Homo sapiens: one gene and its partners. The protein of the gene in region 4 interacts with the protein of the main gene of each other region in a pairwise test. Each region holds a gene or a part of one and is shown on either strand. Other genes may lie near its edges.

The links.
Region 1: the proteins of HHLA2 (region 4) and FAM3C interact in binary tests that used the Homo sapiens proteins (3 or more experiments, as listed by UniProt).
Region 2: the proteins of HHLA2 (region 4) and TMEM140 interact in binary tests that used the Homo sapiens proteins (3 or more experiments, as listed by UniProt).
Region 3: the proteins of HHLA2 (region 4) and PGA4 interact in binary tests that used the Homo sapiens proteins (3 or more experiments, as listed by UniProt).

What each region holds. Positions count from the first base shown.
Region 1 is NC_000007.14:121,357,516-121,365,485, reverse strand, and holds part of FAM3C (protein FAM3C precursor), read left to right. Parts: intron 1-1,297; coding exon 1,298-1,356; intron 1,357-2,538; coding exon 2,539-2,589; intron 2,590-5,358; coding exon 5,359-5,443; intron 5,444-7,970. UniProt on the Homo sapiens protein: May be involved in retinal laminar formation. Promotes epithelial to mesenchymal transition.
Region 2 is NC_000007.14:135,150,597-135,158,566, reverse strand, and holds part of TMEM140 (transmembrane protein 140), read right to left. Parts: intron 1-7,970.
Region 3 is NC_000011.10:61,224,805-61,232,622, forward strand, and holds the end of PGA4 (pepsin A-4 preproprotein), read left to right. Parts: intron 1-534; coding exon 535-652; intron 653-1,521; coding exon 1,522-1,640; intron 1,641-2,315; coding exon 2,316-2,515; intron 2,516-3,866; coding exon 3,867-3,983; intron 3,984-5,114; coding exon 5,115-5,259; intron 5,260-5,361; coding exon 5,362-5,460; intron 5,461-6,577; coding exon 6,578-6,727; 3' UTR 6,728-6,890; downstream 6,891-7,818. UniProt on the Homo sapiens protein: Shows particularly broad specificity; although bonds involving phenylalanine and leucine are preferred, many others are also cleaved to some extent.
Region 4 is NC_000003.12:108,291,147-108,299,949, reverse strand, and holds the start of HHLA2 (HERV-H LTR-associating protein 2 isoform a precursor), read right to left. Parts: upstream 3,403-8,803; 5' UTR 3,351-3,402; exon of another isoform or gene 896-3,350; intron 1-895. UniProt on the Homo sapiens protein: Through interaction with TMIGD2, costimulates T-cells in the context of TCR-mediated activation. Enhances T-cell proliferation and cytokine production via an AKT-dependent signaling cascade.

The DNA of each region.
Region 1 (7,970 bases), on a different chromosome or scaffold from region 4:
TCAAGTTCTAGACTTGAGGTGAGGGAGAAAATATTACACAGATTAAATTGAAAAATATGTCCTATCTATATCTATTATATGGTGGATAGCACCAAAAATGTAGGAAGTAGTCTTCCAATATTTAAAACTTATTATCTGATTCAGTCATCATTGACAGGCAAGTGGAATTTGAACATGAATCTCCATTATTTGTTTTTCTTTATTTTATCTTATTAACATAGATCCAACGTTTGTTAGAACTGAGCTCATTCATCAATTGCAACCATAGTTCAGCTGCAGATGTGAATTGTTTGAAAAATCAACTAAAATACTCTGTGAGAATCGACTGAGATTTATAATAAAGTACATCGTAGATTTTATTTATGAAATTGTGTGCTATACATCTTTTAGTAGTTTATAATAAATTGTGTACCTATGTGTATATATAATTCTGTCTATATAAGGACAAGTGTGTGCACGTGTAGTCACATATGTGCATATTGCCTCTCTCTCCTAAACACAGAGCAGTTGTTAAATAGTTAACAGCACACCACTGGGAGTATTACTATTACCTTGAAGTTTTGAGTTAAAAGAACTCACAATTTTAGTTTAATAATTCTAATTTGAGCAATTGAACAAACTGAACTGATAACCAGCAAATTTGTCACTGGTACCTTCCATTTTACAGTGTCATTGTCTTTATATAGTGGTCTGTGAGCTGCCCATGGAAGTCGATTATTTCAGGTAGTCACCACGTAAGTGACTGTCATTCAATGCAGTGATTTCATGAGTGCAATATTTCTTAGTGTAGACGAACTTTACAGTGATAATCACTAGGAGAATGTTCACAATTAGGTAAAACATTCATGAAAGAGTGCTCCCCCACTCTGTTTGCTTTTAGATTTAAATGATGGGGGTAGTATCTCGCTTCTGTTTCATGTCACGCTGGTATTGAAGAGAGCAGAAAAGAGATTATCTTTTGTTTGATACCTTAAGAATGATGCAGAACATATGCTTAATGTCCATGTTTTAAGAATAATCTGAAGCAGTGTAGCACAAAAATGGTCTATTATTTCAGGCCTAATATTTTTTAATATGTATTTCTATTTGTGAAATATTATTTAAGGACATTGCTTTAAAATTATTCAGTATTAGACTGTCTTCTCTGACTTAGTAGAGATCTTTTTAATTTCCTCCGCAGCACTGAACAATTGAAAATATGTATAATATTCCTAACTTTTTTTGCAAGACTTTATTTTTCTGATATGTTATTGTACAATATTTAATTCTAAATTTATTTCAATTTCTCCCCCTTCAGTTTAATGAGTGGTGTTAAGAATAATGTTGGAAGAGGGATCAATGTTGCCTTGGCAAATGGTAAGAACAATTATTTTAGCTTATGGATGTAATCATTGGGTATTTTTCTGTCCCAAAGTAAAATGCACTATCAGAGGATCAGGTTAGAAAGTACTGCTCTTGATGATAAAGCCCTCTGTCCCATCCCTGCCCTGCAAAAAATCTATGGGTGGAGACTTGGTGTCTAAGAATTTATAGCGTGTTTCTTGAAAGTATCCTAACTTGCTATGCAAGAGCTTCCATGAGATTGTCAGAAACCAAGCAGTCTAACATCACATTGATAAAATCTTGCTTCAAATTTTGGAATCCTAACATAATAGGAAGATAGGTTGACAGGATTAAAGGCGTATGAAATGACAAAGGATGGTGTAGGGGGAGGAACAAAGAATAAGAATGTATTGTAATTTTTCATTATCAGCCACATTCTTCTGATAGCTTAATTAGTATGAATAAGTTGATTGAATCCTGAACATCTCAAATTTTCCTTCAAAATCAAATCTGAAAACATAAAACCATAAAGTGAGGCCTAACTGCATATTGATCCTCTCTGTTCTGGTACAATAAGTATTCCATAAAGCTATGTAGGATGGTTATAAGATATATAGGATGGTTAGAAACCACTGTAGTTTCATAGTGTAGAAAAATATATTTTACTACTTTCACAGCAAGAGGTAAATTTTTGTTCTTCTGCTTTCTTCATTTCCTTAGGTAAAAGGTTCAACATCTGTCTATTTCATTAATAGCAAAAAATACATTTTATAGGGCAAGTTAATGTAAGTTTTATTGTAAAAACTGATTTAATGTAGAAAATGGCATCTGATTCAAGGAGATACTTCTTTTTTGTAAAAGGTTTACTTTTGAGTAATTTTAAAATAAGAGAATATGGAAACAACGATGAAATATATCTAACCGAATTGGAATGGTCTACAGTCAGTAATGAACTTCTATTTATCCTTCGGCTTAAAAGATTAATGAGAAAGTTCTATTAAGAAATTACCCTTTAAAAATATATTTCAGGTGCATATGATTCAGATTTTAAGTTCTCAAAGTAATTCTTTGAGATGAATTCACATCTCTCTAATGCTAATGAATTCACATCTTCTCTGCTAATGAATTCACATCAATCATTGGATGAGATTATTGGTCTTACAGTGTATGATATATTTCAGATGCATAATTTGATATGAATTTAATCTCTTTTAGGAAAAACAGGAGAAGTATTAGACACTAAATATTTTGACATGTGGGGAGGAGGTAAGCATAAATAACATGACTGTGTTCTTTTGCTGGCACTGACTTAATCACCTCAATACAATGTAGCCCATTAATGAGAGAATGATGATGCTATTTGCGTTAGTTCATTTTGTTTCCCTTACTTTCTGTTCACTAAATGTCCAGCTGTATTTAAGTTATCATTCATGTTTTATATACTTTCTTCTTCTTAGAAAAAAATTTTTGTGGTGTATAATTGAAGATAGTAATATCAAAATTGAGATTTTTTTAAAAAAAGTCATCTTGTTTTCTACAGGACAACCAATTCAAAAGTTTTGGGCTCCTTTAAGTGTGTCTAAAATTTAAAAAAAAAAAGTAATTTGAAGACCAGAATAACCAATGTAAGCATTCCTAAGTGATAGGAATTGATTTTTTTTTAAATGTGATTTTTTAGTCTCAAAAATAAATCATTAGGAGCATTAGGAGCATTAGAAAGACAAGATAAACTATCAGTTTTAGAACAGCAGTCCTATTATTCATCACAGTTCTACCCTCTGACTTGCAGCTAATTTTTTAGGTAGATGAATATTTGAGGGAAGAAATAGAATTTTCTTTCTTGTAAAGCAATCCACAGATATTTTCCCCTTCCATATTTGGAAGTCCCACAAGGAGTGGGAAGAAGTTACCAGCACGCAGAGGCAAGGGACTGGCACCCCAAAGAAGAACGCTGCCCGGAAGAATGGGTTTTTTTCCTCCAGTTTGAAGGGAGGCCAACACTGGTTTATCTTTTGATTCTTTAATTTGGGAGATTGATCAGTATGAGGATCTCCCCTGCACCTCCCCATTCCATTTATATATTCCCTAGAAGCCAACAGCTATTAGGCTTCCTGAAATTCATGTTAAGAGTTCTCAGATAATTTAGCTTTTCCAACATATCTTCAGCTTGTAATAAGATGGTATGTAGCCGGACGTGGTGGCTCACGCCTGTAATCCCAGCACTTCGGGAGGCCGAGGCAGGCAGATCACGACGTCAGGAGATGGAGACCATCCTGGCTAACACAGCGAAACCCCGTCTCTACTAAAAATACAAAAATTAGCCGGGCATGGTGGCATGCACCTTTAGTTCCAGCTACTCCTTGGGAGGCCGAAGCAGGAGAATCCCTTGAACCGGGGAGGCAGAAGTTGCGGTGAGCCGAGATCTTGCCACTGCACTCCAGCCTGGGCGACAGAGCCAGACTCCGTCTCAAAAAAACAAAAGATGCCGTGTATTATTTTGTTATTAAATAATGTTAGGACAACATTGCATAGCTGTCAAAGCTGTATAAACTTAAAATGGGACCATCAATTTTAGATTCTAAAGGCATAAATTGGTCCTGCCAAAATTTATTGATAGAAAGAGTCTTACAAAGCTGTTGTTGAAATCAGTCATGTGACCAGGAGCTCTGGTATTCCTTACTTCTCTTGTCACAGGTAGATTAATTACCGCTAGCAGCATTCTTCTAGTTAGGAAATTGTTGCAGTTTATTGCCACTTTTGCATTTAAATGGAAGTAGTTTGTTAGCTGCCTTGTTATATCTTTTTGAATTGAAAATGCTATTATTATGAAATATAATCAGTTATCGAAAATCTTTGGCATCTTTGCTGTGGAAAGAAACTGAGTACATTTGAAGTAACCCAGTTTTGGAGTAGAATTAGACTTCAGAGCTATAAGGAACCCAGACATTGTAAAGAGTTCAAGATGTCAAGTGGTTTTTAGAATCTGACCTATGTATCTGGCATCAACAGTTTATAGTCATTGAAGTGGTTTATTTTGAAGTCCTTGTGGATTTTGATTTGGTAGATCAAATGAGTAATGACTGTAATATTTGCTACAATTAGTTTGGCTTTTAGTGATCACCTAACATATTCCTTCTCCCAGTTTATAGCAAATGATATACCTAAAATAGCCTTTAAATCTGTGTGTATATGTATTTTTAGATTTTCTAAAAATTACAGATATCTTTGAGAATCGGAGAAAAGCTGTGTATCCTCTTTCTAGTAAAGTACCCATACAAACATTGTTATGCTTTTTTTCGTTTCGTTTTTGTTTTTTTGTTTTGTTTTTGAGACAGGGTCTTGCTGTGTCAACCAGGCTAGAGTGCAGTGGTGTGATCTCAGCTCACCGCAACCTCCACCTCCTGGCCTCAAAGCAGTTCTCCTGCCTCAACTTCCTGAGTAGCTAGGACTACAGGCATGTGCCACCAAGCTCGGCTAATTTTTAAATTTTTTTGTTGAGATGAGGTCTCACTATATTGCCCAGGCTGGTTTCAAGCTCCTGGGCTCAAGCCATCCCCCAGCCCTGACCTCCCAAGGTGCTGGGATTACAGATGTGAGTCACTGTGCTCAGCCCATACAATTTTACATACACTTAAGGAGTCCACACACCTCCCATGCCTCCTTAAGCTTATGCATGGACCCCAGAATAAGGTTTTCAGGATCCCAATTATTCAAATCTGAGAGATCTCTGAATTTCTTACTTCGTAAGTCATGCTTTACTTTGCTATGATTTTTTTCACTTAGCCCCAGGAATATCAATACGAAAGACACAGGATAAATCAGGAATGGGAAATTGTAAGTTGATAGTGGGATTATGTTAAGGGACAAATTTAACAGTTTTTAAACTCTTTATGAGATTTGTCTGTCTTTTGGATTACTTTACATTGGAAATTATTGCTTTACAGATACTTCATGTTTTATAATACTACTTTCAGAGATTATCGTGATGCTTATTCAGTCATTTTTTAAAACCCTAAACCCTTTCTTTTTCTTCAGATGTGGCACCATTTATTGAGTTTCTGAAGGCCATACAAGATGGAACAATAGTTTTAATGGGAACATACGATGATGGAGCAACCAAGTATGTAAACTTTACAGAACTTTTTGGAACTATAATTTGTAATTATAAAAGCAATACATTTTCATTAAAAAAAAATCTGTAACATAGAGCAAAGTAATCAAACTACCAGGTAAACACAACTAACAATTTTTGTTTTTACTTTGCCTCCTTCCTGGTTTTATATGTAAATGTTTATCACACATATATTGTCATGAAATTAGAATCACATCATATGTAACATTTTTTATACTTTTATGTTTTGTTTTTTAACATTCTGAAATTGTTTTTCCTAGCATTAATATTCTTCAATAGCATTTTTATGGTTCATCAGCAGTTATGGGCTCACCTTTAAAGTTTCCCTATTATTATGTCATTAGGGTAAATTTCAAGAAATGGAGTTAATTGTCAAAGATACAGGTGTGCTATATTTTAAATAATTTTAATATATAGTAGTTTTATAACTTTTTCTTAAAATAGTATATGTTGTAAAAATTTGGAAAATTATAGAAAAGCGCAAAGAGACCAAGTTCCAGTCCATCTCACTACCCAGTGTAAACATTGATGATATTTTAGTTTCTATTCCAGATGACTTAAGACACATTTTTTGGCATTAAATATTTAGAATGCTAGTATTTATAGCATATCTCTTCACTTACGTGGTGAATATTTCCCCTTATTATTAAATATTCTTTATAAAAAATTGTTTATGCCTGCCTAGTCTGGTTTTTAAAATGTCATGATTTATAACCTGTTTAATGGGTTGCCTATTGCTGGACCCAGACTAGTTCCAATTTGCATACTTAGCACAATAGACTATCTTAGAAATGTTTGAACAGTCCATGTCTATGTCTTTAAGATAGACTTCTTTTTTTTAAAGTGGAAATGATTAATTAAAGGATGTGCATGTTTTTAAAAATGGATTTTAAAAATTTTTTTACCAATTTTATATTTTTCTCAGAAGTTCCATGGCACCAATTGTTAATTTTTTTAAGTTTCAATTTTAAGAGTTTGAAAAGGTATCTTATTTTAATATGCCTTTATTATTGAGATTGGATTTTTTTCACAAGTGGTTTTTTTTTCTTTTGCCTTTTTATGTAAATTGTCTTTTGACCATTCGAGTTGGCCTATCTTGACTTGTAAGACCCCTTCACGTTTTAAGGATATTAACCATTTCTAATGTAAAAAGAAATGTATTTATTGTACATTATTTGCTTTTAATTTTGTTAGTGTAGGGTGCTTTTTGAATTTTAGAATTTTAGACTAATGCCTATATAGTCTATGTATTTTTCTATCACTCTCCTTGTATACTTGAGAAGTATTTTTCCACCTCCAGGTTAGATATTTAGTAGATTTTCTCTTCCAGTGATTTCACTGTTGTCATGTATTTTTAAAAACCCATTTGTAATTTCCCCATGACACACAATGCCTATGTTCTTATGTAGATTTGGCTTTATCTCTGGAATTTCTGTTCTGTTCCATTCACTTGACCTGTTTATCTCTGTTCCAAAAAGACACTATTTCAATTATTTTAAAATTGTTTTATAAAAGTAATTGTACTTCATGCCTCTCTGGTTGAGATTAAATCCCCTTTAATGTTCTTCTTTCTAGAAAAAAATAATTTTTTCTCTGACTTTTCTTCAGATGACTTATCAAGGATAAAAAACATCCTTTATAGATTTTAATTGACAGAGCTTTAATACTACAAGATTTATAGATTTTATAGATTTTAATTGACAGAGCCTTAATACTACAAGATTTATACAGAAATTTGTATTTTTATGTATTGATTTTTATAAATGTATTATTTTATAGCTACATTATCACAGATTTACATGAAAACAGTGATACTTTATAAATGGTTGTAAGCTGAAGTAATTTCATTGACATTGTGCGTTTTATCTGGTTCAACTAAGAATATATTAAATCCATAAATTGAAGGTTAACATAAAACTCGCCTATTCAAGCATTTTCATCTACCTAAATAGAATGAAACAGGATGTAATTAGGCTCTCATCAAAAAACAGGTAACTTGCTATTTGCTTTTGCTGAGAGAATAGGCTATTACGTGTAAAATTTGAAGTTTTAACATTAAAAAGAAAAGGCCCCACTTTTCTGACTTGACAAACATGACCTCCGTTTTTCACCAGATTATTTTGTTATACCTGATGGGAATCAAAATTGCTCCCCTTAACCTGCTAATATGCTAATAATAAATTATAGCCACAACTAAGAACTAGGGGAGGAATGATGTTTACTCTTCAACTGCTATTTTTTGGTGCCCATTAAATGCACCAAAAGCAGCTTTGGAAGAGAGTTCAACCTCTAGGGCAAAAGGAAAAATCTAAACTTTAATTTCTTTACGTTTGGTCACTTGGTCAATATATGATTCATCTGTGAATTTAAATGAATTGAGTTGTATTAGTTTGGGGCACACGAATTTATATTTCAAATATTTCCTTTTCCTAAATACCAGTAAAAGAAATTGTAAGCATCATATCTTTTATACTGAAATGGACAACATCCTTAAGAAAGGCAATCTACATCTAAT
Region 2 (7,970 bases), on a different chromosome or scaffold from region 4:
GGATAGGGAAATCAGGCCATCCTACACATATCTAGGACAAGACCCCCTGCCCTGCCATGGGCTGCTGTGAGACCGAGATGTGGCCATCCTGTGTGTTCCACAGCTTGTTGCCAATGCTGCTTACTTGTGAGGTGCTCCTCCCTCTCTGGTCTCAGGCTCCAGGTGCTATTTTGAGAGTTTAATGTTGGGCAGCACCCCTCCCTGGAACTGAGATTGGGCTGGTGCAGCTGTAGCTGCCACCCAGCCAAGGATTAACAGGGAAATCAGGCTGTCCTATGCACATCTAGGTCAATACCCACTGCTCTGCAACATGCTGCTGTTGAGACTGAAATGTGAGCAGACTGCCTTCCCTACAGCTTCTTGCCCATGCTGCCTGCCTGGAGGGACCCCTGCCCTCCTGGTCACAGGCCCAAGGTGCCATTTTGAGAGTTTAATGCTGGGCTGTGCCCCACCTTCTTGCTGAGTTCAACTTGATGTGGCTGAAGCTGCTGCCCAGTCAAGGAGAAACAAGGAATCTATGCTCTCCCGCACATACCTAGGACAATACCCAGTGCCTGCTACGGGTTGCTGTGAGACCGAGACTCAAGTAGACCACCCTCCCTACAGCTTCTTGACCATGCTGCTCACCTGATAGGGGCCCCACCTTCTCTGTTCACAAGCCCACAGCTGGCACCATTTTGAGAGTTTAATGCTGATTCATAACCAGTCTGAATTAACAATCAGGCAATGTGGCTGCAGCTGCCACCCTGGTAGGAAAGGGACAGGGAAGACCAAGCTCTCCTAAGCACACTTAGAACAGTGCCCACCACCCTGCTACAGGTGGCTGTGAGACTGGGGAGTAGCTCACCCAACCCATCACAGCTTCCAGCAACACCAACATGGACTGCTTGGATCCCAGTTGGCTGCTTCAACAGTGCTACTGCCATCACTCACATGACACCACCTGCTCAGGGGCTAGAGATCATGCCCACACACTGGGCTCACCACTCCCACTACTAGCTTCTAAGCAAGCCATGTGGAGGCCCAAGAATCAGCCCTCCAAGACCCACTAACCACCAGAGCAGCGTAAGCTGCTGTGGGGCCTAAAAAGGGCACACTTACCCCACTGTTGCCACCACTGGGGTCCAAAGGCTGCTCAGTTGGCATCCAAGTCCCAGCTAAACTTCTGGGGACTTAGTCTCAGCTAATTACCATACTCTATCCCACTGAGGAAATCACAGAGAACACTGACCCTATGCCGAAGAAGTCATAGAAAGATCACACGACTGCAGGCATCCAAAATCAAAGTCAAAGCATCTTAACAACATGCATATATCCTCAGGAAAAAATTCTCCCTTATAAAAGCAATTTCAAAAAATTGGAACAAGCAACTGCTACACCAGACGCAAAGAAATCAATGGAAGGATACAGGAAACATGTAAAAGCAGAGAAACATGACACCATTGTATTAGTCCATTTTCACACTGCTGATAAAGACATACCTGAGACTGGGAAGAAAAAGAGGTTTAATTGGACTTACAGTTCCACATGGCTAGGGAGGCCTCAGAATCCTGGCAGGAGGTGAAACACACTTCTTATATGGTGGTGGCAAGAGAAAATGAGGAGGAAGCAAAAGCAGAAACCCTGATGAACCCATCGGTTCTCATGAGACTTATTCACTATCACGAGAATAGCATGGGAAAGACCAGCCCCCATGATTCAGTTACCTCCCCTGGCGTCCCCTCTCACAACATGTGGGAATTATGGGAGCTACAATTCAAGTTGAGATTTGGGTGGGGACACAGTCAAACCGTAACAATCATCAAAGAACCACAACAGCTGTCCAGCAGCAGCAGATCCCAATCAAAGAGAATTCTTCAAAATGCTAGATAAAGAATTCAAAATATTGATTTTAAAGAAGCTCAATGAAGTGCAAGAGAAATCTGAAAACTAATACAAAGAAATCAGAAAATTAATCCAGGATATAAATGAGAAATTTATCAAGGAGATAGACATCTTAAATAAAAACAAGCAGAAATTCTGGAACTAAAAAATTCATTGAAGGAAATACACCATATGCTCAAAAACTTCAACAGTAGACTACACCAAGCAGAAGAAAGAATCTCAGAACTCGAAGACAGGACTTTTGAAATAATCCAGTCAGACAAAAATGAGGAAAAAAGGATAAAAAAGAATGAATAAAGCCTTTGAGATGTCTGGGACTGCAAGAAGCAACTGAACTTATGAATTATTGGTATTTCTGAGGGGGAAGAGAGATTAGAAAGTTTAGAAAACATATTTAAAGAAATAGACATCCAGATACAGGAGGCCCAGTGATCCCCAGGAAAATACATTGCAAAAGGACCTCACCATGGCATATTCAAAATGTCTGAAGTCAAGTGAAAGAAAGAATTTTAAAATTAGCAAAAGTGACTAGTCACCTATAAAGGAAATCCCAAATCTCATCAGACCAATTGAGGACTTTTCAGCAGAATTCTTACATGCCAGAAAACAATGGGATGGCATTTTCAAAGTGCTAAAGGGAAAAAAAAAAACAGTGTGTCTGTCAGCCAAGAATTTTGTATCCTGCCAGAATAAGCTTTATAAAAGGAGAAATAAAGTCCTTCCCATACAAGCAAATGCTGAGGGAATTTGTCACCACTAGACTGGTACTACAGGAAATGCTCAAAAGGATCTTAAACACTGAAATGAATGGTGTTTTTAATTAATTATTTTTGATAGAGGGTCTTGCTTTGTCACTCAACCTGGAATACAGTAGTGCAATCACAGTTCATTGCAGCCTTGACCTCGTGGGCTCAAGCAATCTTCCTGCCTCAGCCTTTTGAGTAGCTAGAAATACAGACATGTGCCACCATGCCCGGTTAATTTTTAATTTTTTTGTAGAGACAAGATCTTGCTATTTTGCCCCGGTTGGTCTTGACCACCTTCCATCAATTAATGCCCCTGCCTGGCATCAATTAATCCCCCTGCCTAGCATCCCAAAGCACTGGGATTAAAGGCATGAGCCACGATGCCCAGCCAAAAGGTTGATATTCACCATCACAAAAACATACAGAAGTATAAAACTCATAGTTTGTATAAAACAATCATACAAAGGAAGAGAAAGGAATCAAATGGCAACATGACAGAGTTTCATCAAAACACAAAGTCAAAAAGGCAAAGACAAAGAGTCTATAAAACAACCTGAAAACAATAAACAATATAACAGAAACAAAGTCTCACAGATCCATATTAACCTTGAATGTAAATGGATTAAATGCTCCACTTAAAAGATACAGATTGGCAGAGTGGATGAAAAAACATGATCCATGCTGCTTACAAGAAACTAACCTTACCCATAAAGACATATAGACTGAAAACAAAGGGGTGGAAAAAGATATTCCATGTAATTATAAACCAAAAGCAAGCAGGCATAGCTATACTTATATCTGATAAAACAGATGACTTTAAATTAAAAATAGTAAGAAAAAAGATAAGGTCATTGTATAATGATGTAGGGATAAATTCAGCAAGACGATATAATAGTCCTAAATATATATGTACCCAACATTGAAGCACCCAGATTAACAAAACAAATATCACTAAAGAAAGAGGTAGACAGCAATACAATAACTGTAGGGGACTTTTAACACTCCACTCACAACACTAGACAGATCATTGGGACAGAAAATTAACAAAGAAACATTGTACTTAAATTGAACTTTAGACCAAATGGACTTATAAAACATTCTACCCAACAACTACAGAATATACATTATTTTTGTCAGCACATGGAACATTCTCCAAGATAGATCACATGTAAGGCCACAAAAGAAGTTTTAACAAACTTTTTAAAAATTGAAATTATATCAAGTATCTTCTCAGACCACAGTGGAATAAAACTAGAAATCAATACCAAGAGGAACTTTGGAAACTATACAGATAATGGAAATTAAACAGCATGCTCCTGAACAACTACTGGGTCAATGAAGAAATTAAGACAAATTAAAAACATCTTTGAAATGAATGCAAAAACACATTGTACTAAATCCTGCAGGTTACAGCAAAAGAAGTGCTAAGAGGGAAGTTTATAGCATTAAATGCCTACATCAAAAAAGTAGAAAGATCACAAATTAACAACCTAACATTGCACCTCAAGGAATTAGAAAAGGAACAAACCAAATCCAAAGTTAGCAGAAAAGAAAAAATAAAGATCAGAGCAGAACTAAATGAAACAGGGACAAAAAATTTACAAAGGATCAATGAAACTAAAAGTTCATATATTAGTTCTTGGGATCAATGAAAGTAAAAGCTGATTATTTGAAAAGATAGACAAAATTGATAAACCACTAGCTAGATTAACCAAGAAGAAAGAAGATCCAAATAAACACAATCAGAAATGAAAAAGACATTACAACTGATACCATAGAAATGCAAAAGATCATCAAGGACTATTATGAACAACTGCATGCTCACAAACTAGAAAAACTAGAGGAAATAGATACATCCCTGGAAACACAAAATCCCCCAAGATTGAACCAGGAAGAAATAGAACTTCTAAACAGACCAATAATGAGTAGTGAGATTGAATCAATAATAAAAAACTCCCAAGAAAGCTTAAGACTAGATGTATTCACAGCCAAATTCTACCAAACATACAAAGAAAAACTAATACCAATAATCCTGAAACTATTAAAAAATCAAGGAGAAAGGAATTCTCCCTAACTGATTCTCCGAGGCCAGGGTCACCCTGATACTAAAAACCAGACAAGGACACAGCAGAAAATGAAAACACAGACCAATATCCCTGTGAACGTAGATGCAAAAATCCTCAACAAAATACTAGTAAATCAAATCCAATGGCACATCAAAAAGATAATACACTATGATCAGATGGGATTTATTGCAGGGATGCAAGGATGGTTCAACATATGCAAATCAATAAATATGATACCCCAGGTTGCTGGATTGCGTGGTTTTTCAGTTCTTTGAGAAATCTCCATACTGTTTTCCCTAAAAGTTGTATTAATTTACATTCCCACCAACAATGTATAAGCATTCCCTTTTCTCCACATCCTTGACGACATCTGCTGTTTTTAGAGTTTTTAGACTTTTTTTTTTTTTTTTTTTTGTGGAGATGGAGTCTTGCTGTGTTGCCCAGGCTGGAGTGCAGTGGCATGATCTCAGCTCACTGCAACCTCTGCCTCCCAGGTTCAAGCAATTCTTCTGCCTCAGCCTCCCGAGTAGCTAGGACTACAGGTGCGTGACACCATGCCCAGCTAATTTTTGTATTTTTAGTAGAGACAGGGTTTCACCATGTTGGCCAGGATGGTCTCGATCTCCTGATCTCGTGATCTGCCCACCTTGGCCTCTGAAGGTGCTGAGATTACAGGCATGAGCCACCATGCCCTGCCTAGACTTTTTAATAATGGTCATTCTGACTGGTGTAAGATAGTATCTCATTGTGGTTTTAATTTGCATTTATCTGGTGATTAGTGATGTTGAGCATTTTTCATATGTTTCTTGGCCACTTGTATGTCTTCCTTTGGAAAATGTCTGTTTATGTCCTTTACCCACTTTTTAATGGGATTGTTTTTTCTTGTTGAGTTGTTTGTGTTCTTGTAGATTCTGGATATTAGTCCTTGGTCAGATGCATAGTTTGGCAGCCCCTTCCCCATCGGGCACCACCAGCAGCAGTTGCTATCATGGCCTTGAGGACTGCCGCATGGAACTTACATGTTTTAATTTTGCTGCTGTTAAACATTACACACTTTGCAAATTTTGCGGAGTAGAATATTAAAAGAAAAAACAGGTAAGCCATTAGGTTCCTAGGGCCTTTCTTTTAATTAATGATTTCAGAAAGCCAAAGGGGACCAGGGAGGGAAGAACTTGCTTTGATGAGACTCTTTGATCAGTGGAAGGTGTCTGAGAAGGAATCTAACTTTAGTGAGAACTTATTAATAATTAAAAACAGACCTCAAAATCTCTTGAGAATTTACTATATGCCAGGCCCTGTGCTAAGCACTTAACAGGTATTGTCTTATTAATTTCTTACAACCATGTAGGGTAGAGTTACTGTTTTCATCTTCATTTTCCAGAGAAGAAGACAGGCCTAGTAAGGGTCAGTAACTTGCCCAAGTTCACACAGCCAGTGAATGATGGAGCCTGTCAGGCTGCATTGTTAATCACCATGAGGATCTACCTCTAACTGGGGGCCTGGCCCTTTACGTGCATTAACTCATTTAATCTTCACAACACCCTTGTGTGGATGTTATTATCACTGTTCCCATTTGACGTAGTGAAGACAGTGTGGAATACTGGTTCTGAGCATGGACCTTGAAGCTATGGCTTCTGGGTTCAAGACTCTGCTCTTCCATTCACCAGCTGTGTGACCTTAGTTACTTAACATCCTTCTGCCTAGATTTTTCATCTGTAAAATGGCTTTAATTATATAACTTATTTTGTAGATGTTATGGAAATTAAATGAAGTAATTTGTGCATGGCATTTAGAACATGACCTGGTAAGTATTATTTAAATTATTACTACGATAGAGAGAAAACTGAGGCTCAGAGAAGTTAAGCCCAGGCTACCAGCCTGACAGTGGTGAGATTCTAGGAAGACAAATAGTGCCAGGGTTCATTCCCAGAGATGAACTCTAGGAAGCTGGTCTCATTTATGTTTGGTTGTGATGACTCCAGGATGCAGCTGCCTGTTGAGAGGTAGCACAGTGTGGTGGTAAGGAGCATGGGTTTTAGAGCCAGATGACCTGGGAGCATGTCGTCGTTCTGTCACTCACTAGTCATATGACCTTGGGCAAGTTACATAGCCAGCCTGAGCCTCACATCCTCATCTGTAATGCATCAGTTGTCACGTTCCTCATGGGCTGTTGTGAGACTGAAGGAAGTTCACTCACATATAGAGGGCTTGGGGCCTGACACAAACTGGGTCAATGTGTCTGCTCTGGTCATGATGCTGAAGCAATAGCTCAGTGGGAGAAACGGGAATTGACGGAGAGTCAGGTAGACATGGTTGGGTGTGTCGCCTGAATGGAGAGAGGAGAACTGGGAAGAAAATGTTAGCAGAATAAAGCCGGGGCAACAGAGCTTGCCAGGGCATAGAACAAGGGCGCAGGTTTACTTGTCAGAGGCCACCAGTCCTGGCTAAAATATTTCTGGTGGAACACATTGAAGATCAGTGTGCTCATGGTTTAGGTGTGGCTGTCACAAAAATAAAAAGGGAAGAAGAAAGGGAAATGTGTCATATTTCCTTTGGTAGAAACATGAGTCCAGGTTCTAATTCTTTTCAAAACAGGGCTACTGCAGTGTTTTTCAACAGTGTGTAGGTGGTGGCAGCTCCTGGATTTCACCAGTGTTTTCTGTGGACAGCCATCCCAACCACCAAGTTTTTAATGAATGCTGTGATGTTTTGATTTACTTAATTATTCCATGTAAATAAAACAGCTTTATCAGACAAAATAGGACTATACCATGAGATTATAACATAAAGTCAGAAGCATGAGTCCAGGCACCCAGATGACAAGCCATTGAGATAGCTGTTTAAATGGTTCCATTAATATTAACTTGCTATTTGTGCAATTGTTTTGTTGACTATTAGCTCTCACTAGCAGATAATCCAAGTGGGAACAAAGATTACAAAAAGTTTAGAGGGAGAAGAAAATCCTTAAAAATGAGAAAATGTCTACAAATGAGCCATCTTAATTTGTTTGTTTGTTTGAGACAGTCTTGCTCTGTCACCCAGGGTGGAATGCAGTGGCACCATCTTGGCTCACTGCAATCTCTGCCTCCCGGGTTCAAGAAATTCACCTGCCTCAGCCTCCTGCCACCACGTCCAGCTAATCTCATTTGGTTTCTGTTGGCAGGACTCCACGGTCCAGTTTGTGGGCGGCCAAGATTCACAAGATTCAGAGTTTGAGAATCAGTAGTACCAGAAACTGGTGACTGCCTTTGGCTGTCAATGGTTAGTTTTCCCG
Region 3 (7,818 bases), on a different chromosome or scaffold from region 4:
AACAGAGTGAGACTTGTCTCAAAAAAAAAGAATAAAAATACTGTCAATGCCCTTTCTTGCAACCTGCTATACACATCTAGATGTAGAAATAAGAAAACTGGACAGGTTTCCATCTTTAAGTGGCTTGCTTAGCTTCTGATAAACAATTTAAGGCACAAGCACTTAAGCTGTAACTTGCCCGGTGCTAGAAGGTTCCACCGCCATCCTCTGAGAACATGCGCTGTACGGATGGGAAGACTGTGACAGACAAGACAATGGCTAAAGAGGGAACAGCAGATTGTTAGGTGCTTGTGGTGCTTAACAGAGAGCAGAGGGTAAATTGGGGGAGCAATCAGGGAAGACTTCAAGGAGGAAGGGACGCCAGGGCTGGGATTTGAAGGATGAAGACAGTGGCTGGGAAGAGAAAGATAAGAACTGTGAGGAATGAAGGAAAAGATGGAGAGGCAGACTGAGGAGATGACCCAGAGACAGCCCCTAGGGAGGCCCTGACAGAGAGACCCCGTTCCGTGAACTGCCCTGTCCTCGCCTGGACAGATGGAGTACTTCGGCACTATCGGCATCGGAACTCCTGCCCAGGATTTCACCGTCGTCTTTGACACCGGCTCCTCCAACCTGTGGGTGCCCTCAGTCTACTGCTCCAGTCTTGCCTGCAGTAAGTGCCCAGACCGCCCTACCCCACTCTCACTCCCCAGCACCAGCCGACCCTGGGGAACCCTGGACACCCACGGGCTTCAAACAGTTCCCACCTCAAGCCTGCTGGAGCCACTCAACAGGCATTTATTGAGCACCTACTACGTGCCAAGCACTGGGCTCAGGTGCTCCAGGGGGTAAAGGGATGAGTGATATGATCCCTGCGGTCAAAGACTACACAGTCTGAGGGCAGAGAGAAGCTCTCCTCAATAACCACAGGCTGGGAGAGGAAGTATGGGGGGCCCAAAGCAAGACAGGGCCAAAGGGCTGTAGAATAGCCCACCAGGAAAGAGTCCAGTGTGAGAAAATGGCTTCAAAGCCTGGCTAGGACAGGCTAGAGGTCAGTGCTGAGCTCATTTAAAAAAAAAAAAAGAATCATTGGTTTGCTAATGAAAGAGAGTTTGTCTTTGGAAGTCATGAACAATGTGTGTTGCAGGTTCCTTCCTCTTCTAGTGTTTTCACTGGAGTTTTAATGAAGATGAGGTGCCTGTGGCATCATCCACATCATAACGGGAGCACTGGCTGGGGGCTAGAGGGTGAAAGCGCTCGTCACTGGGTAGCCACGGGCCTGCTCCGCTCTATGTTGGTCTGGGGAGGTCTCCAGGAGGCCCTTGGGGTTGGCTGGGGAAACTGCCACCAGTGAATGGTCCCAGTAGTTCAACGAGACAGGACAGAACCTGGGGTCTCTTGGGCTCCAAGGGTCTAGGGCGAAAGGTCGCTGCTCACCTCCAGAGCCCGTCCCAGGGCCAGGGCACCCCATCCCAGGAAGACATCCAGCCCATGACCTTCACCCAGCTCTCAGAGAATAACACTCACCGCTTGTCCTTGCAGCCAACCACAACCGCTTCAACCCTGAGGATTCTTCCACCTACCAGTCCACCAGCGAGACAGTCTCCATCACCTACGGCACCGGCAGCATGACAGGCATCCTCGGATACGACACTGTCCAGGTGGGCACCTGCAGGCTGCCGCTGCATCCCCCCATCAGGCACCCCCAAAATAAGCTTATTCCAGCAAGATGAGTCTTGGTGATCACAGAAGTAACCTGATTGGGGGTGCGGGGTGGGGGAGAAGCAGCAGAGATGTCACAGACATTGCTAGCTCGGGTGGCAGTGAGTAAAAGGGTGGGGTGCCAGGAGCCATAACCCAGACTCAGCTCCACCCAAGCAGAATGTTATGGAGTGTGGGGAGAGTCAGTAAAGGCTCACTTCTCTACTAGCACCTCCTCCTCTTCCTTCTTCTCCCGACATGCAGCACCCCAAGTCACGAAATCTCCACAAGCCCTCCCTGCCACTTTCGGGGCATGGCAGGGGTCAAAGGCCTGGGGTCTGGGGTCTGCTTTGCGTTTGTTCATCAGAAACACAAACACACAGTGACCATCTGTTCTCCAGCAAAATCTCACCCTGAGTCATAGACTGTAGCCATCTGGAGATCAGCTGCCATGGTTACCTCCAGCAGAGGAACCAGCATTCCAGCAGACAGTCCCTCTGCCCTCCTCCCGGGCTGATACCCTGGAAGCCAAGTCCTGCATGAGATGAACCAGGGTGGCTCTGGGCCTGAGGCTGGCATCCAGAGCTCAGTGAACATGACCCGATGGTGAACATCATCTCGGTTTCCCCACCCAGGTTGGAGGCATCTCTGACACCAATCAGATCTTCGGCCTGAGCGAGACGGAACCTGGCTCCTTCCTGTATTATGCTCCCTTCGATGGCATCCTGGGGCTGGCCTACCCCAGCATTTCCTCCTCCGGGGCCACACCCGTCTTTGACAACATCTGGAACCAGGGCCTGGTTTCTCAGGACCTCTTCTCTGTCTACCTCAGCGCGTAAGTTGAGTGGAGAGGGGCCTCCTCCCACCTCCCCCTCCAGAGGTCACAGTGTTCCTGCCCAGCAGGAGCTGTCCAAGGCTGGGTGCGATGGAGAGGGTCTTGGGAAGCAAGGGATTTGAAAGTCAATGTCTGAGGCTGGAGAAGTGTGTCTTTGGAGAGTAATAGTGCCAAGTCTGTCTCTGACGGGCCATGTGCACTCCATCTTATTTTACCAGCATCTTTGTCCCCTTGATGTGCACAACTCAAATGTCATCAGCCATTTCCCCCTCAGTACCACTTCCCTCATCCTTGGCCCGCAAAGATGCCATTTAAAGTGAATACACTTGGCCAGGTGTGGTGGCTCATGCCTGTAATCCCAGCACTTTGGGAGTCTGAGGCAGCAGGATCACCTGAAGTCAGGAATTCAAGACTGGGTTTCATGGTGATAGCCAGGATGGTCTCGATCACCTGACTGCCTCAGCCTCCCAAAGTGCTGGGATTACAGGCGTGAGCCACCGTGCCCGGCCCTGGATGACTAATTTCTTCTTGCTGTCTACATTTGCTTCCTCATCTAACCTGAAACTGCAGAAATTTAGAACATGAATATTGCAATAACAAGGACTCCTGCAATTTACCACAGGAAGGCTCTTTGTCATGTATTCTTCTTGGCCAGTTAATGTTCAAGGTGGCTCTGAAACATCATCTGCCTTTATGAGCACTTAAATATTTCATGTGGGGCCATTGCATCTCCCCAGCCAGATCCGAGTTTCTCAATCTGGGCACTATTAACATTTCAGACCAACATAAGAGCTTGCCGCCAGGGACTGTCCCGTGCATTGTAGGATGTTTGGCAGCATCCCCAGCCTCTACCCATGAGATGCCGGCAGCATCCCCTACCCCCACCCAATCATGACAATCCAAAATGTCTCCAGACATTCCCCTGGGGGCAAAACTGCTCCCAGCTAAGAACCAGTGACCTCCACCCTCAAGTCCTTAAGAGCGGACACTGTCATGCATTCACTTCCCTGGGGTCCCCATGGCAACCAGAGTGGGTACCACCATGGAAACCACAGACTCAACCTAAAAGGCCTGTGTTCTTCCAAACGTAGTTCCACCACTCCCCCGCTGTATGACCTTGGGCAGGTGGCCTCACCTCCCTCAGGCTCAGTGTCCTCATGGTAAGTGGAAATAACAGTGACAGTGCCCACTGCATAGGCACTGGCCTAAGAGGAAAAGAAACCACATTAGTCACACCGCAGGACAGCCCTAGAAAGTGCCCAATCAAGGGTAGCCCTGAGGAGGCAACAGCAGATGGTCACACAAATGGACGAACAAAAAAATTCATGTCTTCTCCCCTCACTTTCCACAGCGATGACCAGAGTGGCAGCGTGGTGATCTTTGGTGGCATTGACTCTTCTTACTACACTGGAAGTCTGAACTGGGTGCCTGTTACCGTCGAGGGTTACTGGCAGATCACCGTGGACAGGTGAGACTGCCATGAACGGGCAGCATCCAGGCCTGGGCCCCAGATCCCATTTCCTTATGGATTCATAGCCAATCAGCTTTCCAGAATCCCCCCAGGAACAGCTGGCACAGGGGAACACACTCCAGGGGGAAGGTGGAAGTTGGCCAAGCCAGAGACCCCTAGAAAGACACCTCCCTGCAGGAGGAGGGAAGAGCTGTCTAGGAAGCCAAGACTCTGCAAGGGTGAGATAGCCACTGTCCTCCTAGTCACGGAGGCAGGACCATCCACCAGCATCCCTGGGGAGAGCTGGGGGACCCACCTGTCCACGCATCTGACAATTTAAGGGGCCGGTGAACCAGCACACGCTCCTGCCACTCGAGGAAACATGTCACTTTCCGTCTAGAAGTGGGGCAAAATGGCTAAGAAATTGTGTGAAGTCACTTCATTCCACCCTCCCCTTCAGGGCCTCCCCGGTCTCCCTTGCAGCTTCATTTCCACGCTCTTCTTCCCCAGCTAGCCTGCTAGCGTGCTCAGTGGTGTGGGTTTTCCCAAGAATGAACAATTTCCCAGGACAGAGACTTTCAGTACTAAAACTGGGACCAGCCCAGGCAAACCAGGACACATGGATCACCTCATGTCTGCCCAGCCATGCTAGAATTTCACCAGTTCCTCCAACACCTGCCCCAGCCCTCTGGTCTCTGTACCTCCCCGCATACCATCCCCTGATGATGTCCTCCTTCTCTCTTCACCTGCCTGGCATTCCAGGGTGTCTGTTCCCCTGGCTGCTCCCCTCCACCACCTCTCACCCTGGACCCTGTTTTTGTTCCCTGCCTCATGCCTGACTGATCATCTTGCCCTTCTGCCAACATAACTTATCTTGCCAGCTAGGCAGGGAGCTCCCTGCAGCCTGGAACTGTGAGGCTGTCTTGTTTCACTTGGCATTTCCCATGCCTGGCAGAGAGTAGGCACTTGGGAAATATTTGTTGGGCAAATGAATGCGGGACGAATGAGTGCGTGAACGAGAGGAACAGAAATTTCACGCATTGGCCAATGGATGGGTGGGGAAGAAATGTCTGGGCTCACCTCCTAGTTCCTCCTTGGAGAGAAGTACCCCTGAGAGCTCAGGGAGCTTAACTTGCTTCTTGCCCTCAGCATCACCATGAACGGAGAGGCCATCGCCTGCGCTGAGGGCTGCCAGGCCATTGTTGACACCGGCACCTCTCTGCTGACCGGCCCAACCAGCCCCATTGCCAACATCCAGAGCGACATCGGAGCCAGCGAGAACTCAGATGGCGACGTGAGTCCAGCCCCGACTGCTCTGTTCTACACTCAAGTAGTGGGTGTGCCAGGCAGAAGGGACAGAAACCCTTCTAACTTTTCTCACCCTCACTCTTTCCAGATGGTGGTCAGCTGCTCAGCCATCAGCAGCCTGCCCGACATCGTCTTCACCATCAATGGAGTCCAGTACCCCGTGCCACCCAGTGCCTACATCCTGCAGGTGAGGAGGCTCTGGACCATCCACTAGAGGGGTTCACACAGAATGTGGACACAGAGTTCCCCTCTGCAGACGGAAAGTACACTTCCACGAGCTGAAGCCAGCAGGCAGAGGCAGACGAACATCTGCCCTAGACAGCCTCCAGAGAAAAAGAATATATTAAAAACAAATGCAGGAATAAGAACTCGGATACAGCCCCCTAAGGGAACAAGTGAAGCAAAGGTTAATGGAGTGAAAAGAGGATTCTATTTGGACCCCTGGGTCCAAGTCCTGGGTCTGAATTACTAGCCCATTGATTCTGAGCAAGCTACAGCTCATCTCACCCTCAGTTTTCTCATCCAAAAAGTAGAGATGGCAGCTTTCCCCACCCTCAGAGTGCGGTTAGGTCAACCAAGTGAGACTGATCACATCAGAGCTACCAAGGGTTGGGCAAATGGAAATCCTAATTTCCATAGGCTGGGGCTTCTGACACTTCTACCATCTCTACCAAGTAGCAAATCTTTAGCTATACGAGCCACAAGAAAACTCTTTCCCTTCTGTTATCATAACGTCAGGTGGAAAACTAATTTTGCCAGTGGACTCATGTTACTCAACAAGAAGCACTGATGCCTGGGCTCCCCCACTGATTCTGATTACATTAGGAGAGGGCAAGGCCTGAGCAATGGGATGGGGCTGCGGGGGTTCAAAGCTCCCCAGGTGATGTGCAGACAAGGTCGCAGCCCAGTGACTTAGTGAGGCAAGAGGGCTAATAGCTCATCTGGTTTGCCTCTGACCGGATCAGAATAATAATGAGAAAAGGCTATGGCGGCAGGGTTTTCAAACTCCTTCCTAGCAGCTGAATTCTCCCTAAGCCCCTTAGCACCAATGCTGATGTCAGGGTTCGTGTGCCTGCCAGAAACACCAGATAATGTCCAGTAATGCGTAGAAACCAGTCGTTCAGTGGACGGCTTCTACAGGCCGACTCCAGGCCAAGAACAGCCGAGTCCCTGGACACTGAGCCAGGAAGCTCCTCCTTGCACGTGCCTTACAGCTGGACCAGGGCGCCCTGGATGTTTATCACCCAGCGCCTATCACGGCTGAATCGGTGTCCCAGCTCCACTTTTATTCTCCTTTTCTCCAGAGCGAGGGGAGCTGCATCAGTGGCTTCCAGGGCATGAACCTCCCCACCGAATCTGGAGAGCTTTGGATCCTGGGTGATGTCTTCATCCGCCAGTACTTTACCGTCTTCGACAGGGCAAACAACCAGGTCGGCCTGGCCCCCGTGGCTTAAGCCTAAGTCTCTTCAGCCACCTCCCAGGAAGATCTGGCCTCTGTCCTGTGCCCACTTTAGATGTATCTAATTCTCCTGACTGTTCTTCCCAGGGGAGTGTGGAGGTCTTGGCCCTGTTCCCTGTCCTACCAATAACGTAGAATAAAAACATAACCCACTGAAACAGGTTTTGTGGAGCTGCTTCTCTTTGCTGGTCTTTTTCCTTCACATTACTGGGGTTAGAACGCCAGGGCAGGGATGAAAATGACCACATCCATTTGGATGGCACCCAACATAGTGACCCCAGCAGCTGACACTTCATGATGGAGCCAAGAAGACAGAGAGGCTTCGGGGGTTGTGCTGGAAGCATCATAAAAAGACCTGGGGGTCAAAATACTGGGCTAATTGTCTTCTCATAGAAGGGACACAGAGCTGAGATCGTGCCATTGTACTCCAGCCTGGGCGACACAGAGAGACTCCAGCTCAGAAAGAAAAAAATAGGTCACTGAAGCTCTTAGTTGAGGGAGTCAACCTCCTACTTCTCCCAAAGCCAATAAGAGATCATGAGAAGGCTGGGCACAGTGGCTCACGCCTGTAATCCCAGCACTTTGGGAGGCTGAGGCGGACAGGTCACCTGAGGTCAGGAGTTTGAGACCAGCCTGGCCAACATGGTGAAACCCTGTCTAATAAATTTACAAAAATGAGCTGGGTGTGGTGGTGCGCACCTATAATCCCAGCTACTCAGGAGGCTGAGCCAAGAGATCGCTTGAACCTGGAAGGCGGAGGTTGCAGTGAGCTGAGATCGCACCACTGCACTCCAGCCTGGGCGACAGAGCGAGACTCCATCTCAAAAAAAAACAAAAAAAGAAAAGAGATCATGAGGAAAGGAAAGCAATCAGGAGAGTCACGAGAGGTAGACACTAATGGTGATGTCCCTAAGTAGATAGGACAGGGCAGAGTTGTCTGCAAGACGTGGACAGGAGAAGTGGAAGAAGCTGACACCCCACAGTCTTCCAGGATGCCCTTGTGATTCACTGGCTACCAAGACCAAGACTAACAGTTAATCTCCCCAAGGTCCTAGGCAGAAAACACTGAACCCATCTCTTTCCCCA
Region 4 (8,803 bases):
CTGAAAATAAAGCTGGGACTCTCGTCATCCAACTGTGCTCTTTCCAAGCCATCGCTCCTGTACCTTTAGGGATTCTGTATCTCACTGTGAGAATCTAAGTTTATTCTAGAGTGACCCTTGCTCCTACACGAAATGGTACCTAGCGAATGTCAATAGTATTTGAGCTGGATAGGGCATATAAGGTTGAGTTAGAGTATAATTTGTACCTTTATGGGTCTGAAATATTTAAGAAATGCTTGCCACTTGGGTCATCTGAGTTTTCTATGTCCCTTCCTCCTCTCTTATCAGCAAATCTAAAACTCTAGGAAGAAAAAGTCAAGAACTCCAAAACTAGTTACTTTTACTCCACTCAGCGTAGCATTTCCATAGATTCCTGCACTTATCACCCAGAACTTTCTGTTCCACCCCTGAATTTGCAACTCAGAACATACTACTCTGACGGAATTCTTCATAATCTGACTACTCCTCACCTTTCTCTCCTCCCACCACACTAACAAGATTTCTAAGCTCTGACTCCATCAATTTCACCCTTTTCACTTATTATCTATAATAAATATGTATTATATTTATATAACATTTATATATTTATGTATTATAATAGTTATATGATTATATATATATATTTTTTCTGGGTCTTTTACAAAAGTGATTTAACTTTTTGAGTCTTTTTTTAAACTAAGTTTATTTTCCTTGTTGCCAAGTTGATATAACTACAGAGCTACTAGCTTTGCATGAATGTAATTAGATTAGGAATATAATTTGTCAATTTGGAAATAGAAATATTATCAAAGTTGGTCATAGTAACATTAATTTTGTGTAATTGACAGGATATTGTAGTGATTGCAGTTAAGGAATATAGAGTATGGGACAAAAAGAAAAGGTAAAAGGTTTTCACCTTCAGAAGGTGTTCTTGGTGATGTCTCTAATCTAGGTTAAATTAGATAGAAAGGATCTCATTTCTCGAAGGTGGTGTCTAGGACAGACCTGGATAGCCATGGAGAAGACATCCCACCTGAAACAGAAGTATTAAAGCAAGGAAGCTGCAAGTGTACATTTGCCTATCTCAGGTTTGTATCTTAATCTCTTATCACTTGGGAATTAGTGGTTTGAACTCTAAATGGTAAGCAGCAATGTGCAATGACAGACTCTAAGATTCCAAGATCGAGGACTAAGGAAAAACAAGCCCCCATTCGTTACTCAATTTTAAAATGAGCCTCTGAGGGGACATTTAACAGTATTTACAGAGAGAAAAAATCTGAATCTGCAGTTATTATAACAAGCTGCACCTGCTAACTGCATTCTAGTCTCCAACAGAAAAAGATGCAATACAGTACATTATCTCTGAGACCTGCTGGAAATGAATATCCAGAGAAAAGCAAGCTTCTAAGGGTGAAGCCTATGCTGAAGAAAGAGAAATATGCATTTTACTGAAGATGGTGCAGTAAAAGGGGCCTGCAAATATATACTGGAAACTTTAGTTGGGGCTAAATTAGAAGGATTTTGAACATATAAACACTACAACTGAATACCAAGGAAAGGTGTGTACATGTTATAAAGATAGTATTGTGTTAGAAAGGAGAACCTAAAGTTATAATAAGCCAGAATAGCAGGATTTTTCTGGTGGCATATGTTTATAGCCCCAGTTAAACGGAATGGACTTGGATCCTCATTTTCTTTTCTAGGAGAGTCAGGTCAGAGTCCTAGATAGGGAATACCTAATAGCTAGTCTCATCTGACAGAAGAATAAGGAGGAAGGAATTTCTCTTGAATAGGCAATTGGTCTTCCCAGAAATTAAGTCAGGAAGCAACTGGCTCTTGGATAGCCCCTGGGTCGCTGCTATGCAGATACTTGGAAAAGGGGTATTCATTCCTACTAGGCAGGGGAAAAGTTTGCATGCCTGCAGTCAGAAGTCAGTTAGACAGACATTCAAAGCCTCAAAGAGAATGCTGGTTATGTAACTCAGAACAAACTCTCCACTCCTAGGCAAGTCTCTGGGAATTTAGAGTTGACATGACAACCTCAGGAGGAAAAACACCTTGTTTAATGCTGTACTACGTGACCTACACCGGTCACTGACCAGAGCAAGGAGAAGCCACCCAGAATCACTGGTTAATGATCAAAATATTAAGCTATGGTCTATTTTAAGCACCTGGAGGAAAACTCAACACAGGAATTGGTTTCTTTCCCAGCTCAGGCCAACTGATAGAACATGCTGGTGGGCCACACGCCAAAAGTAGGCAGAGCCTTCATTCATGGATTTATTTAAGAGCCACCAAACTTTCAGGCTACTCAATATGATTATATAGGAAATCATTTGTCTTTTACATCTATATTCTGAAATAATAATATTTATTAAACACTTTCTACATACCAGGCACTTTGCTAAGCACTTTAATAAATTTCATTTAATCTTCACAGCAATACTAGTCTACCCCCATTTTACAGATTAGGAAACTGGCTCTGAGAAAAATATACAACTGGTTAATGATGAAGCAGGTAAATGCACCAAGGATTACTTGACTCTAGAGACTATGATCTTGACCACTACACTTTATTGCATCTTTTGATTAAAATATGCTTATAATGGGATATGACACCAATTTGCCATTCTGGACAGAAATTATTTCCTCCAAGTTTCTAGGAAATGGGAAGCTCAAGTTTGTTTTGTCAGGTACCAGTAACACAAAAAAACCTAAATTACCTGTTCATATTTTTTTCTATTATCCAAAGTCCCAAACAATAGAAACCCAATGAGAATTGAATCTTAACTTTTTGAATCTTGTTTTAGTTATTAAAAAATGACATAAACTTAATGATTCTTCCCTGAGACAGTGGAAATATCTAGGAGACTTCTAAGTTTCTTGTATTAGAATTCAAAGATCACGATTCTTCTGCTAGATAACCACTACTACGGTCCTTTTGTTTCCACCACAGAATGGAACGCAGTGCATCTTGGAGCAGCTAATAAAACTCTGTAGTGTAACTAGATGAACAATTACAAGTAAGAATACACTCTTAGAGATTTTTTTAAAGTTCGCAGATAATTTTCAAAACAAACATTGCTCATCCCTCTTTCACTGTCTTACCAGAATGTTAGGTATTTTCCTCATTTTTGCTAAGTTCTTTTATTTGAAATATATCAGCATGTTCCTTCAAGACAACCTTTTACTAAGTATTTGTTTGGTGCATATGCACAATACATAGTATATGCACTAAATCAATTTAAAAGATCAGTCACTAATTTTTTCCTAACGGGAAAATAAAGTGTCAACTAAAAACCACCCATATTTGATTTATTCATGCCCACTTTTAAGTTCTAGGTATAAACAACTTAGAAAGAAATCCTTACCTTACTTAGAAATTCATACCGTCTAGTCAAATGCTAAGTAGTCCATAAGAATAAACATTGAATTCAGCTATGAGTTTCTCAGAGAGTAAAGTCCAAGGTACGTTTGATTTGCTACCTATGACAGACCAAGGAAATCACATCATCACCAAGGACTCCCTCCTTCAAACTAAGCCCCACCCAGATCTGAGTCAGTACAGATCTGAAAAGTCCAGGAATTAGAAGATGCAGTTTCAGACAACATATTGAAACAGCTAAGCATTGAGCTGTGGGAGCAGTGGACTCTGGTTTCCATGCTATGGTGTCAGCTTCACCATCAACATGATACAGGCAACCTCCTGAGGTTGGACTGCCTGTGACCTGTCTAGCTTGCTGCAGAGTTGTAAAGAAAATTGTGTAGCTGGTTGCAGTGGGTGCCAATAGTTCTGTGAGAAAGAACCATAACCCTACACAAAGTTCATCTGCACCTACAATTCCCATTACAGTTCTGGTCGCTAGAACACCCAAGCTTAAACTCAACTTCAGAGAAATAAAGACCTCTCTGAATTCCACATGGAAAGTTGGGCAGTGCCCAGCCTCTATGCTGTCATATCATTTAATCTCTCTCTCCCTCAGTGTCACATGCATGGCATGCATGCACATACAACAGATGCTAAGAGTCATGCTTTACTCACTATTGTATCCCAAACAACTACCACTTACTTACTAGCACATAGTAGCTGGTCAATATCTGTTTGCTGAGTGCATGGGAGCAAAAGTTACAAAGTGAACAAAAATTACCTTAGGAGGACAATAAACAGGACCCTTCTGTCTGGAACAAAGGATGCCATCCAAGCCTTGGCACAGCACACAAATCCCCTGATCATATAATCATAGGGCCCTGTCTAGCTTTATAGCCTTTCGGCATTACTCACCACATCAACGTTAACCTCCTGCCACACATGCACACTCAGGGGAGAGGGCAAAGTACATTTGGGGAACTCCCCCTCCTCTTCCCCATCTCTTCCTTGACTTCCTTCTTCTCTAGTCAGAGTCATCCATAGTGAGCCTTCTGCTGCCCACTGGAAACTGGGTTGAAAGCGCCAGGGCTCTTCCTAGAATCCCCAAAGTCACCCACGCCAACGTTTTCTTTTTTGTTTGTTTTTGTTTTTCGTTTTTTTTTTTTTTTTTTTTTTTGAGACAGAGTCTCTTTCTGTCGCCCAGGCTGGAGTGCAGTGGCACGATCTCGGCTAACTGCAAGCTCTGTCTCCCAGGTTCACGCCATTCTCCTGCCTCAGCCTCCCGAGTAGCTGGGACTTTCAACCCAGTTTCCAGTGGGCAGCAGAAGGCTCACTATGGATGACTCTGACTAGAGAAGAAGGAAGTCAAGGAAGAGATGGGGAAGAGGAGGGGGAGTTCCCCAAATGTACCTTGCCCTCTCCCCTGAGTGTGCATGTGTGGCAGGAGGTTAAAGTTGATGTGGTCAGTAATGTCCAAAGGCTATAAAGCTAGACAGGGCCCTATGATTATATGATCAGGGGATTTGTGTGCTGTGCCAAAGGCGCCCGCCACCACGCCTGGCTAATTTTTTTGTATTTTTAGTAGAGATAGGGTTTTGCTGGGGTTCCTGGTTTAGCCAGGATGGTCTCAATCTCCTAACCTCGTGATCCGCCCGCCTCGGCCTCCCAAAGTGCTGGGATTACAGGTGTGAGCCACCGCGCCCGGCCGCCAACTTTTATCATTAATAAGATCTATTATGAAATGAAATCAAAATCAAACTGGGACTTAAAAGATGCAGGCAATCCCTGCTTTCACCTCTGAATCTCCATGGCCATGTAGTTAATGGTACATCACACCACTGTAATATTAGTTTAGGGAAATAGCAGAGCTCCTAAAGCATACACATGAGGAGAGCAGACTCTCACGGAATTTGAAAATAGAAGAATTACATATTTTTTGAAGATTTTTGAAGTTTTAGGAAGAAATGCCGTATGCATACAAACATACCTGTTATGCAGAGATTGTTCAAGCTGAAGGTAAAAATAGAATCACGGTTTTAAATAATATCAATGGCTGAGGAAGGAAAGAACAATTTCTCTGAGATTTATGTCACAGAGAAAGTGGCTATGATATGTATGCCATTATTGAAGACTAGATCAACAGTTTTAGGTTACAAACCTTTCCCTTGCAACATATTCTTCATTTCAGGAAGGGGTACCTGAAAGGAAGTAGGATGAACCATTAGGACCCTATATTAGGGGAACCTGTAGGGCCACTGCTTGCAAGAGCTCAACTGTTAGGCTTTGGGATCTGTTACCATTTCAACACCACTTTTGGTTCTCTTCTGCAAAGTGCCTCCACGATGTCTTCAAGTGACTGGGAGAAGAAACGGCATATGAAATATGGTTAATCCTGATTATATCTATGCACATGTACCTACACTAAGGCTCAGGGGAGAATTTAATGTTGGCATTGAACATTTATTAAGTTGGCAAATGTTCTGAGGAAGTAAAAAGTATAACTGTCATGTAACTTGAGGATGTGAGAGCAGCTACCGGTTGCATCCTCAGATCAAATAGGGCTGAAATTAGTCATCCAACTGGAGTCTTTCAGTTGTCGAAATACTGCAGAAGAAAGTGAATTTAAACTCTAAAGCTGAGAGGTGGACAGACATGGCTAAAATGTAGATCTTAAATTGGTCTGACAGGGAGATAAGGAATTACGGTCCTCATATATTAGGCATTTACTGAATCAGTTCAATCAATATTTATTTCCAGCAAAAAAGTCTCCTAATATTTCAGCTATTAAAAACCTTGAGGTGTTAAACTCACATATTCATTTTCCAAGATGCTAAGTGTGGTGCCTGTCATCATTTGTGCATGTCATGCCTTCCTGGCCCATTGTTGCTGTGAAAGGACATAAAGTAATTTAGGCCTAGGCATTAAAGTGGAATTGGAAGATCAAGAGAGGACTGCACTCATACCTGCTAAATGTTAAGCCACAGAAGGTTCCAACAGACTTGGATAACACCTTAAGTCAGAATCCACTGGACTTCAACATCTCTCAGCTGGGAGTACCCTAATTAACTAACAATTCAGAACAGCTCTGCAATTTAGGATTTCTGTCCAGCCAGTGAATTGCCCCTCAAAACAACTTTTTCAAGAAATCTCCTATTAAAAACCTGAACTTGCCTTAAAGGACACTATTTAGTGTTGCCCTAATTCAGTGTACCTGAATTGCAATTCTTTTTTTCCCAAATATACTCTACTTTCTTTGGCATCTGTGTTGATTTTTTTCTTAGTTAATGTAACAACAGAACTGCCACATCAGTGCAGGGACTTCCTGAGGCCTTCTAGATGCTCTCTGTGATCTATTCTTAGTTCTCTGTTTTCCTGGTATTGCTTCATATTCAGGTCTAGAATAGCATCAACCACCTTCAGTTTTGCAGTGAGTTAGCTTTTAAATTGCTTCAAAGTGCTTTCACAACTCTCTTAATGATCATTCTGGGAAACAGCCAGGGTAAGTGATCCTCCTGCTTCATTTAGGATGAAGAAACAGGTGCTAAGAGTGAACAAATGATACACCTAATGAATAAGTGTCAAAGTTGGGCATTACATTAAACATCTGCCATACTCCTCTCACATCCCCTTGGCTCACCTTTTTGTCCTGGACATTGTTGAGGCAACAGGCTCTACACAGGTGCCCTTACCAGCACTTCATCCCAGCTGTACTATGCGTCTGTCTTGCTTGTTATCCCAGGGATTCTCTGCTTTCTAGTGAGACTCCTAAAACAGAGAAAATAAAAACCCTCCAGTGTTAATTTTAGCCTATGGAGGTCAGGCTGTTCCCCTGTTTTCTCTCTGGTTGACAATCCTGAAGTGTCTTCTATGTGGTTCCTTAAAGCATCCCCACCAAGACTAAGCCCCAGTTACCCACAGGCATAGCCAGCTGAACAGCACACTCTTGGATTAGCTCTCCCTCCTTCCTGTTTTACTCTTCTCAAGGGCCCCTCCCCTGTTCCCTGGATTCACTTCCCAAAATAAAATACTTGCTTTTCTCTTGCAAATTTAAGTTCCTTATAGATGGTGGATATTAGACCTTTGTCAGATTCATAGTTTGCAAATATTTTCTCCTATTCTGCAGGTTGTTTACTCTGTTGATAGTCTCTTTTGCTGTACAGAAGCTCTTAAGTTTAATTAGATCCTGCTTGTCAATTTTTGCTTTTGTTGCAATTGTTTTTGGTGTCTTTGTCATGAAACCTTGCCCATTCCTATGGCAGGATGGCATTGCCTAGGTTGTCTTCCAAGGTTTTTATAGTTTTGGGTTTTACATTTAAGTCTTTAATCCATCTTGAGCTGATTTTTGTATATAATGTAAGGAAGGGATCCATTTTCAAGCTTCTGCATATGGCTAGCCAGTTATCCTAGCACAATATATTGAATAGGGAGTGTTTTCCCCATTGCTTGTTTTTGTCAGCTTTGCTGAAGATCATAGGTGTGTGGCCTTATTTCTGGGCTCTCTATTCTGCTCCACTTGTCTATGTGTCTGTTTTTGTACCAATACCGTGCTGTTTTGGTTACTGTAGCCTTGTAGTATAGTTTGAAGTCAGGTAATGTGATGCCTCCAGCTTTGTTCTTTTTGCTTAGGATTGCCTTGGGTATACAGGCTCTTTTGTGGTTCTACATGAATTTTAAAATAGTTCTTTCTAGTTCTCTGAAGAATGTCACTGGTAGTTTGATAGAAATAGCACTGAATCTGTAAATTGCTTTGGGCAGTATGACCATTTTAATGATATTGATTCTTTCTATCCATGAGCATGAGATGTTTTTCCATTTGTTTGTATTTTTTATTTCTTTGAGCAGTGTTTTGTAATTCTCATTGTAGAGATCTTTCACCTCCCTGATTAGCTGTACTTTTGGATATTTTATTCTTTTTTGGCAGTTGCGAATGGGATTGCCTTCCTGATTTGGCTCTCAGCTTGGCTGTTGTTGGTGTATAGGAATGCCAGTGATTTTTGTACATTGATTTTGTATCTTGAAACTGCTGAAGTTGTTTATCAGCTGAAGGAGCTTTTGGGCTGAGACAATGGGGTTTTCTAGATATAGAATAATGTCATCTGCAAACAGATAGTTTGAGTTCCTCTTTTCCTATTTGGAGGCCCTTTATTTCTTTCTCTTGACTAATTGCTCTGGCTAGGACTTCCAATACTATGTTGAATAGGAGTGGTGAGAGAGGGCATACTTGTCTGGTGCCAGTTTTTAAGAGGAATGCTTCCAGCTTTTGCCCATTCAGTATAATGTTGGCTGTGGGTTTGTCATAAATGGCTCTTATTATTTTGAGATATGTTCCTTCAATACCTAGTTTATTGAGAGTTTTTAACATGAAGGGATGTGGGATGTTTAATTTTATGGAAAGCTTTTTCTACATCTGTTGAGATAATCATGTTTTTTATTCTTTAGTTCTGTTTATATGATGAA